2 separate regions of the Homo sapiens genome follow, and region 2 is linked to region 1. The links come from fine-mapping of genetic effects on gene expression. Tissue or cell type: nasal epithelium. Region 1 holds a variant in brackets; the other region holds the start of a gene. All regions are shown on one strand. Distances are from middle to middle.

Region 1 (8,099 bases):
TGTCCCGCACAGCCTCCCTTGGGGAGGAGCGAGGGTCCCTGGAGAGCTGATGCCGTGGGCCACACAGATGTCAAACTCTCCACGCTACTGGGGCTCCAGTGCCAGGGAGCCACCAAAGGCAAGGTTTGATCCCAGCTGGGCAGGGGTCTGGGAAGAGGACGGTGCAGGCACAGCAGTGCTGTGGGGAGGGAGGAGGCAGGGGCTGGGGACCTTGTGTCTGCAGCCAGGGCCTGGATTCCACAGGGGTTTGTGGCCTGGGCAGCTGAAGGGAAGGAATGAGATGGGGGAGGGGATGGAGGCCAGAAGGGGGTCCCGAGGAGAGAGGCTCACGGCAGGTTGGGACAGCTGGCCTGATGGCCTGTGGAGCACTTGGGGACTGGCCTAGTAGGTGGCCGGGCCCTGGCTGAGCAGGAGACTCATGACAGAAGACGTGTGGGGAATGGGCCTGAGTGCTCCACAGCCACGCAGGTGGGGGCCGTGGGAGGGGTGCAAAGGAGCAGCCAGAGGTGGGGATGGAGCCCAGAGAATGGCCTGGCTGGGAAGAGGAAGGGGCTGCCGGAGGGAAAGGGGAGGGGCAGTCTTGCTGGAGCGTGGCTTTAGTAGCCAGCTTTAGCGGCTGTATGGTGGCTGCGGCATCTTGGGAGGGCTGGGGCTCTGGGCAGGTGCAGGGGAGTGCCTGACACTTGGGAAGGACTCAAGGGCCCGGTGGAGGAGCAAGCTGGGAGGAGGCAGGGAGGGGTGGAGGTGGATCTGGACAGATGTGGAGGGCGAGGCTGAATCTGGAGACCCCTGGGGGAGAGGGCGGAGGGGCTGGCAGAAGCTGCTGGGAAGGGATGGAGGTGGGCCTGGGTGTCGCCTACCTGATCCTCAGCAGTCGGTTCCGCTCCACCTTCCCCAGGGCCTCCTGCTCTCTGCAGAGCTGCTCGGCTGCGCGCACCTGGAGCCGCCGCCCCGTGGCCTCCACCTCCTCACGGTCAGCTGTCCGGAAGGCCTCGAGTCGCCCCTCCTGGATCTCGATGTGCCACATGGTGTTCCTTCAAACAAGAGGCAAAGCAGCTGGAGACGGGCCCCACAGTCATCCTGGGGTGGGGGTTTCGGCATTGAGTTCTGACAAATCCTCCAGGCAGATGTTGAACACCCCAGATGGGTTAGCTCCCTCCTCTAGGGGCCATCTCCGCTCTGAGTCACCCAGACACTGAGGCCCGCCCTGCCTGCCTCCAACCTCAGGAAAATCACTATGGGTTCAATCCAGCCCGGCTAGAGCCTGGCCTGCACTCCCGCGTGCCACCTGCCGGCCTGAGGCTGTGTCCGTTGGCTGCGGTGGGCCTGGGGCAGGCCCTGCCCAGCCTGAGGAAGGCCTTCAGGAAGGGACAGCCGTGACTCTTTGGCTGGGCTGGAGGATCCCTGGTGCAAATTGACCGGCACCCAAGACCACCCCTCAGTCTTCAAATGTGCCTGGGGTGGGGGCTATGGAGCGTGGAGTCAGCCAGCCCTGCCCGGGGCCACATGTCCTGGATGACAGGGGACCTGCCTGACCCCTGGTCTTGGGCGAATTTGTCCTCGACTGTGAGTGTGGCGTCTGTGGTGGCCCCAGATGACACAGTGCCCCTTGGTTCTTGGCACAACTCAGGGAAATTTCCGGTGAATCTTTAGTTGGAGGAGTGCGTGTGCTGTGGAGGCTCAGGCTGGGAAAGTTCCTTCTGAGGATGTGGACAGTGTCCTTCTAACAGCGGCCAGGTGAGAGCCGCTGGAGAGGCGGCCTGGAAAGAGACACCTGGTGGAGGGATGCAAGGAGCCGCTCCTGGAGACTGCGAACGGTTCCACCCAGAGATGCGGCTCAGGCCGGGGCTGGCCACGCGAGGATCAGAACCCTGGACAAGGTCAGACGCAGGCGTTGAGCCGGCATCCTCACTGCATTGCTGACATTCCACGTGACGTGTGCCACAGCTCTGTCCTAGACACCCGCGATCATGTTCATTTCCACTTCGTCTTTCGTTAAAAGCTTTTCCTGTGGAGCCGAGTCCAGTCTCTCTCCCCACTGCAACACCCGGGGCAGGGGTCCCACCGCCTTGGCCCTCCGTGAATAAAGTCTGCTTTACATCTTTTTGAAAAAATCATGAACATATGTTGAATTGAGATACTCAATGGTTTTCTCTTTTAACGTGTTAATGTCAAGGATTTCTAACGTTGAGCCTTTTTCGGGGCTCCTAGGATATAAACTCCAACTTGGCAAGGGAGGTGTGTCTGCGTGTCTCACACGTGGCTGGATTTCAATGTTGAATGTTTGATTTGGGGTTTTCTGATTTGCCTCCTGAGATCGGGTTCTACTTTCCCTCTCTCGTACGCCCACTTGGTTTTGGCATCGAGGTTGTGTCACTGCATTTTAGAAACTGGGCATACCATGTTCTTTGTTGGGGTAATTTTAAACAGAGGGCTCCTTTCCAGGGAGCATGGGTCACTTCGGATCTCTGGCTGGTGTCCTGTCATGCAGCACGTTCATTGCTCCCCAAGTCTGGGGGACTCCGCGGAGCTTCCACGGGCGGGTTATTTCTATTCCTCCCTCGCGTGACTCATGAAATTCTTTAATCTGAGGATTCATGCTCCCATCAATTCTGGAAAACGCTCAGTCATTGTTCTGCTGGCTGTCACTTCCCCTGCCCGGTGATCAGTGCTCCAGTGGCCGTGGGAGCTAACAGCCTGCAGGGTCTCTTAGTAAAGAGGCAAGACGCTGTCCCAGATGCTGTCGTCGCCCATTCCTGCTGCTGTAGGAAAACACCCACGACCGGGTCTTCGCAAACAACAGAATTTCATTCCTCAGTTCTGGAGGCCGGGAAGTCCAAGGTCAAGGTGCCAGCAGCTTCGATGGCCTATGAAAGCCTGTTCCTCAAAGGCAGTGCCTGTCTGTGTCCTCACGTGGCAGAGGGACAGAAAGGCTCCCTCAAGCCCTTTTACGAGGCACTAATCGCCCCCACGAGGGCAGGGCCCCCATGGCCGAATCTCCCAGAGACCCCACCTCTTCCTGCCGTCACCTCCAGGGCGGATTTGGTTTGGACGCGTGTCCCCCGCAGGTCTCGTGTTGAACCGGAGCCCCCAGTGTTGGAGGTGGGCCTGGTGGGAGGTGTTGGGGTCGTGGGGCGGCTCCCTCATGAACGGGTGGGCCGTCTCCTTGGTGACGAGTGAGTTCACGGAAGATCTGGATCTTTGAAAATGTGTGGCACCTCCACCCTCTTGCTTCCCCTCTCACCATGGGAGACACGGCTCCTTCCCCTTCCACTGTGATTGGAGGCTTCCAGAGGCTTCCCGAGGCGCCCCGAGAAGCAGATGCCATCACGTTCCCTGTACAGCCTGCAGAACCCTGACCAATCAAACCTCTTTTCTTCTTATTTTTATTTCTTTTAAAA[T/C]GAGTCTTGCTCTCTCCGCCAGTCTGGAGTGCAGCGGCATGATTTCAGCTCACTGCAAACTCCACCTCCCGGGTTCAAGCAATTCTCCCGCCTCAGCCTCTTGAATAGCTGGGATTACAGGCATGCACCACCACGCCCAGCTAGTTTTTGTATTTTTAGTAGAGACGGGGTTTCACCATGTTGGCCGGGCTGGTCTCAAACTCCTGACCTCAGGTGATCTGCCCACCTTGGCCTCCCAAAGTGCTGGGATTACAGGTGTGAGTCACTGTGTCTGGCCCAAACCTCTTTTCTTTTTTTTTTGAGACAGTCTCGCTCTGTTGCCCAGGCTGGAGTACAGTGGTGCGGTCTCAGCTCACTGCAAGCTCCGCCTCCCGAGTTCACGCCATTCTCCTGCCTCAGCTTCCTGAGTAGCTGGGACTACAGGTGCCTGCCACCATGCCCGGCTAATTTTTTGTATTTTTTTTAGTAGAGACGGGGTTTCACCGTGTTAGCCAGGATGGTCTCAATCTCCTGACCTCATGATCCACCCACCTTGGCTTCCCAAGGTGCTGGGATTACAGATGTGAGCCACCTCGCCCAGCCACCTCTTTTCTTTATATGACCCAGTGTCAGGCATTTCTTTATAGTGACACAAAGACTGACGAACAATAGCGTTGAGTTCCAGCAGACCAATTTCAGGGGCACTGGCCTTCAGACCACAGCAGAGGCTGATTGGGAAAGATTGGGATTTTGAGAATGGGAGGGAGGACATTTGAGGGTATCTGCACACATCTGAGCGAGTGCCCCAAACCGCCAAGCCCCTCTGCATATCCGTCCACAGGGAAGCAGCCTTCCCCTCCCTCGAAGGCAGGCTCTGCTGCCTGGGGGCCCCGTAACACCTCCCTGAGGGGCTGCCAGAGCTCCTCATGACCCCCTTGCCATCCTCTCTGGCCCAGATGCTCCCAGGGGCAAGAACAAAGTCTGAACTGAACTGAGAGGAGAAGGATCCCAGAGGAGAAGAATGTAGCCAATCTACACAGCAGGACGTGGGGGAAGGTGTGTGGGAATGAATTCCAACCCTGCCAGACCGCAGAGGGAAGAGCCTGTCCGAGGCTGGCCTGGGCATCTGATGTGGACATGCCACCAGCTCACCCACCCACTGCAGGCGGCTCCCATCACAAACTCAGCTGATCGAGGAAACCTGGACCCAAGAGAGACCTACACTGCAGAAAGCTAGATGCCAGAAAGTCATGCAGAAGGAATCCAAATGTTTGGAGAGACAACCCGTTGGAAAGTTTGTTGTTGCTGTTGTTGAGATGGTGTCTCGCTCTGTGGCCCAGGCTGGAGTGCAGTGGCGCAGTCTCAGCTCACTGCATCCTTGACCTCCTGGGCTTGCTTAATCAATCCTCCCACCTCAGCCTGTAATCTTGAGTAGCTGGGATTACAGGTGCACGCCACCACACCCAGCTAAGTTTGGTATTTTTTGTACAGATGGGGTTTCACCATGTTCCCAGGCTGATCTCAAACTCCGGGGCTCAAGCGATCTGCCCACCTTGGCCTCCCAAAGTGTTGGGATTACAGGCGTGAGCCACTGCATCCAGCTGTTGGTGAGTGTGACAGTGAGTGTGACCACATATAGAAGACATGTTCTTCATTATGGCTCCAGTGAGGAGAGTCCTGTGCCCTTTGAAAGCACCGAGGGGCACTCCGGACTGCGCGGGGGCCTGGCAGGGATGTTGCCTTTGAGGGGCTCCCTGTTGCCTTGGGGCGATGCTGGACCTGGGAGGGGTGGTGGAGCCCTGGGGTGCTGCTAGGCCTGGGAGGGAGCCGGGCTGGTTCCTCGGTGGGCAGCAGGGCAGCGTGTCTCAGCGGGGATGGGTGGAAGGGGTTTGGGGCGGTGGTTAATTGATTTTGGGGTCCCTAGGGCTGAAGTAGATGGGGACCCCACTCAAGTCCAGTTTATCTGAAGAGCCAGTGTGGTCAGTCGCAGAGGTGATGATGAAGGTTGGAGGCTGGACAGATGGGACCTGGCTGGTTTTGAAGATGGAGGAGGAACGCAGGCAGCTTTGGAGCTGGAAAAGGCGAGGACATGGATTCTCCTCGGAGGCTTCCGTGGGGAACCAGCCCTGCCCACACCTTGACTTTAGCCCAGTGGGACCCGTGTTGGGCCAATGACCTCTAGAACTGCAAGCTCATAAATCCGCGTCCTGCTGAGCTGTTAGGTTTGTGGATTTGTCACTGCAGCGATGGGATACGGGTGCAGTCAGGGAAGCCTCAGAGCAGGCCGGGACACAGCACCAGCGCCCTGCCGTGGGTCCCATGTGGCCAAGCGGGGTGCACACAAAGCCTCTTCTTCGTGCTGAGCTGGGCGTGGGAAGGCATCATGTGACGAGGCTGCACAGAACACGTGTGTCGTGCTGAGCTGGGCGTGGGAAGGCGTCACGTGACGAGGCTGCACAGAACACGTGTGTCGTGCTGAGCTGGGCGTGGGAAGGCGTCATGTGACGAGGCTGCACAGAACATGCGTGTGGTACTGAGCTGGGCGTGGGAAGGTGTCACGTGACAAGGCTGCACAGAACATGTGTGTGGTACTGAGCTGGGCGTGGGAAGGCATCATGTGACAAGGCTGCACAGAACACGTGTGTCGTGCTGAGCTGGGCGTGGGAAGGCGTCATGTGACGAGGCTGCACAGAACACGTGTGTCGTGCTGAGCTGGGCGTGGGAAGGCGTCATGTGACGAGGCTGCACAGAACACGTGTGTCGTGCTGAGCTGGGCGTGGGAAGGCATCATGTGACAAGGCTGCACAGAACATGCGTGTGGTACTGAGCTGGGCGTGGGAAGGCGTCACGTGACAAGGCTGTGCAGAACACGCGTGTGGTACTGAGCTGGGCGTGGGAAGGCGTCACGTGATGAAGCTGCACAGAACACGCGTGTGGTACTGAGCTGGGCGTGGGAAGGCGTCACGTGACGAAGCTGCGCAGAACACGCGTGTGGTACTGAGCTGGGCGTGGGAAGGTGTCACGTGACGAGGCTGCGCAGAACATGCGTGTGGTACTGAGCTGGGTGTGGGAAGGCATCACGTGACGAGGCTGCGCAGAACACGTGTGTCGTGCTGAGCTGGGCGTGGGAAGGTGTCGCGTGACGAGGCTGCGCAGAACACGCATGTCATGCTGAGCTGGGTGTGGGAAGGCGTCACGTGACGAGGCTGTGCAGAACACGCGTGTGGTACTGACCTGGGTGTGGGAAGGCGTCACATGACGAAGCTGCGCAGAACACGCGTGTGGTACTGACCTGGGTGTGGGAAGGCGTCACATGACGAAGCTGCGCAGAACACACGTGTCGTGCTGAGCTGGGCATGGGAAGGTGTCACGTGACGAGGCTGCGCAGAACACGCGTGTGATCGCTCACGGCCTGCCTCCCACCACCGAAGCAGCCTCCACCAGGCAGGGCTCTGCTGCTTCATTCATGGGAGAGGCCCAAAGGCTTCGGACGGCGTCTGGCACGCAGTGGGCACCCTCTTACCGCGTGGGGAGGACGGGTGAACGAGAGTGTATCTAAGCCACCGGCACAGATCGCAGTGGGCGCCCTCTTACCGCGTGGGGAGGACGGGTGAACGAGAGACTGTATCTAAGCCACCGGCACAGATCGCAGTGGGCGCCCTCTTACCGCGTGGGGAGGACGGGTGAACGAGAGACTGTATCTAAGCCACCGGCACAGATCGCAGTGGGCGCCCTCTTACCGCGTGGGGAGGACGGGTGAACGAGAGACTGTATCTAAGCCACCGGCACAGATCGCAGTGGGCGCCCTCTTACCGCGTGGGGAGGACGGGTGAACGAGAGACTGTATCTAAGCCACCGGCACAGATCGCAGTGGGCGCCCTCTTACCGTGTGGGGAGGACGGGTGAACGAGAGACTGTATCTAAGCCACCGGCACAGATCGCAGTGGGCGCCTCACAGCAGCCCCCGGGCACAGGGATGGGACCTGCGCAGGCGCTGAGGACCGGGAGGTGGTGTGAGCGGGCAGGGTCGTCTCTAGGGCCTTCTTTGGGGGTTCCTGGGACCTGCTGGCCAGGAAATGCCCGTGAGTCCACAGACGCTTCTGCCAGCCCATGGCCCCTTGCGTGCAGAGATGCTGGTCCTGGGAGAGCTGCGGGTGAGACACATGCAGCATCCCGTCTCCAAGATGATTCCAAGGACCCTCGGCTGTTCATGCCTGAAGCCCCTCCACGGGGTCTCTCTCGGGCTGGCCTGAACACCCCAAGCCCAACCCCCTGCCCAGACCACGACCCTCAGAAACCGAGACCCTCAGAAACCGAGACCATCACGCCTGCTGCCTTAGGCGGCTAAGGGCTGGGGCGGCCTGTTCTGTGGCTGCGGATGACGCGCATGGTGTGGCAGCAGGGACACGTGCTGGGGAAGGTTCAGGTGCTGTTTCCAGAACGCGGTTTGGGTCCCGAAGCAGCGGCCAGCCTCGTGGCCGCCACCTGTCCCAGAGCCACAACGGAGGCCTCCCGGGACCGACGCTGGAAGCGGGGACCACGCTCTCCAAGCTGCCCCTCGCACACACCCGTGCTATTTCGTTTCTGTGCTCTCTCCGTTGGGCTCTACCGCTGGAAGCCCCCGTTCCAGAGGGAGGAGGCCTTGCAGAGACCCTGCAACAATCCCACTGAGTGGAAGCTGAAGCTGCACCCAGCCGTCCAGTGCCCCTGTGCCCGCAG
Region 2 (8,089 bases), 27 kb after region 1:
GACTCCTTTGAACCTGGGAGGAGGAGGTTGCAGTGAGCCAAGATTGTGCCACTGCACTACAGCTTAGGCGACAGAGCAAGACTCTGTCTCAAACAAATAAACAAAACCAAATCTTTTGTTCAGATGACATCCTAGGGAAAGTTAAAGAAAACCTACAGGCCGGGCGCGGTGGCTCACGCCTGTAATCCCAGCACTTTGGGAGGCTGAGGCGGGCGGATCATGAGGTCAGGAGATCAAGACCATCCTGGCTAACACGGTGAAACCCCGTCTCTACTAAAAATACAAAAAATTAGCCAGGTGTGGTGCAGGCGCCTGGAGTCCCAGCTCCTCAGGAGGTTGAAGCAGGAGAGTTGCTTGAACTGGTGAGGTGGAGGTTGCAGTGAGCTGAGATCGTGCCACTGCACTCCAGCCTGGGCGACAGAGCGAGACTCCATCTCAAAAAAAAGAAAAAAGAAAACCTACAAAGTAGAAGACAATCACAGCACATAACCCAGAATTTTACTGTCAAGACCATGTAAGGAATATCCATGAATGGATAAAGACAGACAGCCCCACAGCAAAATGGGCAAAAGACGTCAACAGGCACTTCACAGTTAAGGACGTGCCACGTCCCCTAACACGCGCATGGGTTCGGAGGACCAGGACATGGGTTTTTTGGGGAAGGGGGAGATCATCCTGCCTATGGCACCCTCTGGCTCTGCGATTCCTCTCCCAGGAGCACACCCTACAGAAAATCCCACCTGTTGTGTTAGCTTCCCGGGGTCGCCATAACAAAGTACCACAACCTAGGTGGCTTCAACAACAGAGTTGTCTCACGGTTCTGGAAGCCATCGTCTAAAACCGAGTTGATGGCAGGGCCATGCTTCCTCTGAAGGCACGAGGGAAGGGCCTGTTTCAGGCCTCTCTTTTAGCTTCTGCTAGTTCTGTGGCTTGTGGCAGCAAAATTCCAATCTTCATAGGACATTCTCTCTGTGTGCATTTGTATGTCCAAATTTCTCCTTTTTATAAGGACACCGGTCATACCAGATGAGGCACTCACCCTATTCTAGTATGTCCTCCTCTTAGCTACTTACAGGCATCACTGTAAGTCCAAATAAGGTCATATTCTCAGGTCCTGAGGCTTAGAGACAGCCCCGATGGCCACGGTGCCACTGTGTGGATGAATCTCTCGCACAACCCCGAGGAGAAAAAGACAGAGGCCCGCCTGATGCTCTTCCTCTCCCCCTTCCCTTCACTGTCACAGTAGGTTCCCTGGGTAGGGCAGGTGGAGCAGGATCCACAGTGGCCCAGGCTGGGCTGTCGGAGCCTGGCTGGGTGAGGAGGGTGAGGGTATGTGGCTGAGGCTCAGAGCTGTTTGCAGGTGCCTGGCTGGGTGAGGAGGGTGCCGGTGTGCGTGGCTGAGGCTCAGAGCTGGATGTCAGAGCCTGAGAAGAAAGAGGGCGGCCCCAGGTGTGGTCCAGCAGAGGGTATCAGAGCCCAGGCAGGAGAAGAAGGTGTCCACCATGAGAGCCTCCCAGGCCAAGCCTGGGAGTGATGACATATTTGCATAGCTTCCAAATACCTCCTACAAAATGCTTGTGTTTTTGTTTTGTTTTGTTTTTCATTTTGTTTTTTTTTTTTTGAGACGGAGTCTCGCTCTGTCGCCCAGGCTGGAGTGCAGTGGCGCAGGGTCGGCTCACTGCAAACTCCGCCTCCTGGGTTCACGCCATTCTCCTGCCTCAGCCTCCCGAGTAGCTGGGACTACAGGCAACCGCCACCACACCTGGCTAATTTTTGTATTTTTAGTAGAGACGGTTTCACCGTGTTAGCCAGGATGGTCTCGATCTACTGACCTCGTGATCCGCCCTCCTCAGCCTCCCAAAGTGCTGGGATTACAGGCGTGAGCCACTGCACCCGGCCAAAATGCTTGTTAATTACGAAGGAAAAAAGAACTTCCCAGTGGAGATGTTGGCAGATACCACCTTAATCAAGAGCTCAAAGTGAACATCATCAGTAACGTGACAACGTGACCACTGTGAGCCACTGACTGGATGGAATGAACAGGCCACGGTGTCACCTCTGCGACTTTCCTGTCCGAGACGTGCAGTGGGAATCTAATCACGAGGACACAGCAGACGAAACCAAATGGAGGGACTTTCTCCAAAGTAATTGGCCCATGACCTTCAGAGGTGTCAGGGTCATGACAGCCAAAGCAAGGCCAAGGAATGTTCTGGACTGAAGGGGAATAAAGAGGTATGTGAGAATTCAGTGCAAAGTGACTCTAGGCTGGATCCTTCCACGCTGGGGCCCTGATGCAATCAACTGGCAAAGCGTGTTTGACAGGCTGAGGGGTAAACACGGCAACAGGCCTGTGTCCTCTCCTGACTCGGGCCATGTGTGGCTGTGTTGGAGAATGTCCTCGTTTGTGGAAAATACACTCTACAAGGGTGGGGGGCGACAGAGCATCATGAAGGCAACTTACTCTCAAATCCTTCACGAGAAGTTTTTTTGTGCTGAGCTTGCAACTTTTATACAAGTTTGGGATTGTTTCAAAAAATGTTAAAGAATGTATGTGGTATTACATAAAGTTTATATATATTATTAAACTTATATAAACCTTATATAATACCACACATATTCTTTAAAATTTTATATAAATAAATTTATATAAAATTTAAAATAAATGAAAGTTGGCTGGGTGTGGTGGCTCACCGCCTGTAATTCCAGCACTTTGGGAGGCGGAGGTGGGTGGATCATTTGAGATCAGGAGTTCAAGACCATCCTGGCCAACACGCGGAAACCCCGTCTATACTAAAAATACAAAAATTAGCCAGGCATGCTATAATCCCAGCTACTTGGGAGGCTGAGGCAGGAGAATCGCTTGAACCCAGGAGGTGGAGGTTGCAGTGAGCCGAGATCGCCCTGCTGCATTCCAACCTGGGCAACACAGTGAGACTCTGTCTCAAAAAAACAAAAATTTAAAGAATATATGTAGTATTATATGAAGTTTAATATATATTATTAAACTTACATAAAACTATATGTGGCATTATATATAGTCTATATATTTATATTATATATTGTTTATATAACACCACATATATTCTTTAAAATTTTATATAAAGTTTATATAAAGTTTAAAATAAGTGAAAGTTAACTATATTGTTTAGGGACACATGCATAGGTAGTAAAACTAAAGAAATTTATATATCATCTTTAAAATTTTATATAAATATAAAGTTTATATAAAGTTTAAAATAAGTGAAAGTTAACTATATTGTTTAGGGACGCATGCATAGGTAGTAAAACTAAAGAAAAAGTCAGCCATGGTCAAGAAGAGCGGGTCTGTGAGTGGCATGGGGGAGAGACTTTGGGGTGCTGATGAGGTTCTATTTCTTAACTTGGGTAGTGGCTACTGATGTTCGATTTATAACCAATCTCTAAGTCGCACATGCGCATTTATGCACCATCGTTATGCAGAGAATATCAGTCCATTTCTTTTCAACTGTGGGCCCTACAGCAGGCCTGCTTACTACCTCAGTACCTGGCTTATGCAGATAAAAGGAGTATTCCTTTAAGAAAAACAAAATACTAGAGGCAAATCAGCTTCCAAAACTAGGTTATACATACTAAAACTAAATGACTTTGGGGCTATGGACCATGCTCTCCTTTTTAGCTAGGCAGACACTCACGAGTCTTAACTGTTCACCAGACAGGCTGGCCCTTGATTTTTGTTTAATGTTTTTGTAAATGTGTTATAATAATACTTTATTATAACATCTGCTGCAAAGTCAGGGGCGGGTCCCTCAACAGAGGCTGTGCCAGCGCCGGGGTTCCCTGAAACGAACCAGGGACTAGAACTATTAACAAAGTCATTTTTCTGGCACAGCTTTCCGGGAAAGGCGTTTCATATGGGACGGAGTTCTGCCTGGGGGGCGGGGGTCAAACCCTTCCAGCTCAGCCCCAGGGTCAAACGCATCCGCCCCCACACCCACCTCTGGCTGGCCTGGGTCCCAGGTTCTCGGGCTCCGGAGGCACAGACACCCCGGGCTGCTCAGGCAGGCGGCGGTCCTTGGCGATTGCCCTCCGCGGCGCCGGCGGCGTGGTTTGGGGCGGGCAGCTCCATGGCAACGGAAGACTCCATCGTGGCCGGAGGGGGAGCCTCGCCCGTTCTGCTCCCCGGCTGGAGCGGGTGGTTTGGTCCGACCCACCACCGACCGCGCGGGCCGGGGCCGGGGCAAGGAGGTCGCGGGCCCCGAGGCGCGGCTGAAGGGCCAGGCCACAGGCCGCGGGGCGGGGACGTCTCCGGGGTCCCAGACAGCCAGGCCTGGCCCAGGGCCAAGGCTTGGAGGTGACAGACAGACTTGGGGGGCCTGGAGGAGCTCAGCACCGGCGCGTTGGCCCAGAGGACCGGGGCGGGTGCATGATGGTTTGGAGTCGTTTGTCAACCTAAAAAACTAGGAGGTTTCCCGTGAAAATGGGGATTTTCCTCTTCTCTTGCAAATGGAAGATCGGGCTGGGCGCGGTGGCTCACACCTGTCATCCCAACAATTTAGGAGGCCGAGGTGGACGGATCACTTGAGGTCAGGAGTTCGAGACCAGCTTCGCCAACATGGTGAAACCCCGTCTCTTCTAAATATACAAAAATTAGCAGGGCATGGTGGCAGCTGCCTGTAATCCCAGCTACTCAGGAGGCTGAGGCAGGAGAATCGCTTGAATCCAGGAGGAGGAGGTTGCAGTGAGCCAAGATCGTACCACTGCACTCCAGCCTGGATGACAGAGTGAGACTCCGGCTCAAAAAAAAAAAAAAAAAAAAAAAGACTTCTGAATGTTATGTTCCAGCAAAGGCTCCAACTGAAAAATTGTAAAAGTAAATAGCAAAGTCAGTGAGCTATGATGGTGCCATCACACTCTGGCCTGAGCGAAATCAAGACCCTGTTTCAAAATTAAAAACAGCAAAAACCCGGTTGGGCACAGTGGCTCATGCCTGTAATCCCAGCACTTTGGGAGGCTGAGTTGGGCAGATCACTTGAGGTCAGGAGTTCGAGACTATCCTGGTCAACATGGTGAAACCCTGTCTCTACTAAAAATACAAAAATTAGCCGGGTGTGGTGGCGCACACCTGCAGTCCCAGCTACCCCAGAGGCTGAGGCAGGAGAATCGTTTGAACCCGGGAGGTGGAGGTTGCAGCGAGCCAAGATTGCGCCACTGCACTCCAGCCTGAACGACAGAGCGAGACTCTGTCTCAAGACAAACAAACAAACAAAAAACAAAACGGAAGATGGGCCCAACATGCCAAGCCGGTTCCGACGTTCCCCATTGCCTTTCCCACAGTCCCCATCCCCCGCTGCCCAGCCCATCTCACTGTGCATCCTGTTACACCGGAGCCTCTTCTCGCACCGCTGGTCCGTGGGGGCCGTTTGCAATGGAGACATGGGAGTGTGAGGAAAGGGAGTGGTCTCTCACCGGGCCACTCTATGCCAAGAACTGGGCTCACGAGTGAATTGGACGCGTCCCCTACCCTGGCAGTCTTTCAGCCCGCCATGTGTAGGGCTTGCAGGGTGGCCGGCTCCTGATGCCACAGTGAGGCCTGGGAGGTCCTTTGGTTTTATCCTGGCCCATAACCTGATCCATCAGAGGCAAGACACCTTGCAGAATGCCCAGCACCCGTGAGAATGGCTGTGGAAAGTAGCTGGGTGACACCACAGCACCTCTGCACTCACCCACCTTCCGCAGTGCCAGATCGCTTTCCTCCTCAGAATCTGAGGAATAGAACCAAGCCACCATTACCAGCCCAGGTTCGCTTTTATAAGAGAGATTATACTTCTTCCCGACTCCACGGAAATGATAGGGCTTCTTCCTTATCAACTTTGCCTCCCTGGACCTTTCCCAATGAACTGTTAATATACTTTCTAGGAAAGGGCCGGGCACAGTGGCTCACGCCTATAATCCCAGCACTTTGGGAGGCCAAGGCAGGTGGATCACCTGAGGTCAGGAGTTCGAGACCCGCCTGGCCAACATGGTGAAACCCCTGTCTACTAAAATACAAAAACTAGCTGGGCGTGGTGGCGCATGCCTGTAATCCCAGCTACTCGAGAGGCTGACACAGGAGAATCACTTGAACCTAGGAAGCAGAGTTTGCAGTGAGCCAAGATCACACTACTGCACTCCAGCCTGGGCAACAGAGCGAGACTCCAACTCTCTCTCTCTCTCTCTCTCTCGTTCTCTCTCTCTCTCTCTCTATATATATATATATACTGTCTAGGAAAGAAGGAAAGGACAGTGACAGCCTGAGAACAGCCCCGTGTCCATGGAACTGGTTGGTTAAGGAAGCTGTGGAACAGCTACACGATGGAGGTCAGCTGTAAAGAAGGTATAAGGACCATTTATTTCTATGTTCTGCTGTGGAGTGACTCCAGAACATATTGTTAAGTAAAAAAAATTGAGCCAGGCATGGTGGCTTGAGCCTGTAGTCCCAGCTACTTGGGAAGCTGCAGGATGGATTGCTCAAGCCCAGGAGTTTGAGGCTACAGTGAGCTATGATTGTACCACTGTACTCCAGCCCTGGCAACATAGTGAACCCCATCTCAAAAAAGAAAAAAAAAATCCAGCCAGGTGCAGCGGCTCACGCTTCTAATCCCAGCACTTTGGGGGGCAAGGTGGGAGGATCGCTTGAGTCCAGGAGTTTGAGACCAGCCTGGGCAACATGGTGAAACTCTGACTCTAAAAAAATACAAAAAAAATTAGCCGGCCATGGCGGTGCACACCTGTAGCCCCAGCTACTCGGGAGGCTGAGGTGGGAGGACCTCTTGAGCCTGGGAGATTGATGCTGCCCTGAGCTGTGACTGTGTCACTGCACTCCAGCTTGGGTGACAAGTGAGATCCTGTCTCAAAAAAAAAAAAAAATCAAGATGCAGAAAAGTGTGTATAGTATTTATGTAAGAAGGAGCAGTGGCAATAAGAATATATATATATTTTTACATTAAAAAGGTTACTATCTGGGGCAGAAGGACACAGGAATAGAAAGTAGATCTCTTTAAATGTGCTTACATTCAGTTATAGAACTGTGTAATTAGAAAACCAAAAATAAATCAAAATAGAAAAGCATCTAAAACTTGGAGACAGAATGAAACAAATGAACCTAATTGTATGGCATGTGGGGGGGTTAGCCATACAAAAAAGGATAATTTTGAGTGACTTTTTATTTTTATTTTTAGACAGAGTCTCGCTGTGTCACCCAGGCTGGAGTGCAATGGAGTGATCTTGGCTCACTGCAACTTCCACCTCCTGGATCCAAGCAATTCTCCTGCCTCAGCCTCCCAAGTAGCTGAGATTACAGGCATGAGCCTCAATGCCTGGCTAGTTTTTTGTATTTTTAGTAGAGATGGGGTTTCACCATGTTGGCCAGGCTGGTCTCGAACTCCTGAGCTCAAGTGATCTGCCCGCCTTGGCCTCAGAAAGTAACTTTTTCAAAGAGACAATGTCTGGCTCTGTTCCCCAGACTGGAGTGCGGCGACTCCATCATGGCTCCCCGCAGCCTCCACCTCCTGCGCTCAAGAGAGCCTCCCACCTCAGCCTCCCAAGCAGCGGGGACTACATGTGTATACCACCATGCCCAGCTAATTCATTTCTATTTTATTTTATTATTATTATTTTTTGAGACAGAGTCTCGCTCTGTCGCCCAGGCTGGAGTGCAGTGGCGCAATGTCAGCTTACTGCAAGCTCCACCTCCCAGGTTCATGCCATTCTCCTGCCTCAGCCTCCCGTGTAGCTGGTCATTTTTATTTTTATTTTTGCAGAGATGAGGTCTCACTATCTTTTCCAGGCTGGTGTAGAACTCCTGGCCTCAAGAAATCCTTGAGTTGCAGTGAGCTGAGATGTGCAACTGCACTTCAGCCTGGGCGACAGAACAAGACTCCATCTCAAAAAAAAAAAAAAAAGAAAAAGAAAAAACAAATAAGTAATACAGGGAAGGTGGTTAAGTTTTGTGTATATTTTACCACATTAAAAAGTTTTAATCAGGCCATGCGCAGTGGCTCACACCTGTAATCCCAGCACTTTGCAGGGCCAAGGTGGATGGATCACTTGAGGTCAGGAGATCGAGACCAAC

The links. PIP is the estimated chance that this variant, and not a neighbour inherited with it, causes the effect.
Region 2: CFAP74 starts here. The variant in region 1 is fine-mapped to the expression of CFAP74 in nasal epithelium (TOPMed, PIP above 0.99).

Annotation. Positions count from the first base shown.
Region 1 is chr1:1,973,165-1,981,263 of GRCh38, forward strand. It overlaps CFAP74 (cilia and flagella associated protein 74), which reads right to left. Exons shown (of 39, transcript NM_001304360.2): 7 at 861-1,034. Among named protein-coding and RNA genes, the nearest start is that of CFAP74, 27 kb to the right of the region's middle. RefSeq lists enhancers at 1-230, 5,460-6,417, 6,418-7,375 and a silencer at 488-655. The variant T/C (reference allele first, on the strand shown) is at 3,402.
Region 2 is chr1:1,999,727-2,007,815 of GRCh38, forward strand. It overlaps CFAP74 (cilia and flagella associated protein 74), which reads right to left and starts at 4,060. Exons shown (of 39, transcript NM_001304360.2): 1 at 3,975-4,060. RefSeq lists a silencer at 3,924-4,218.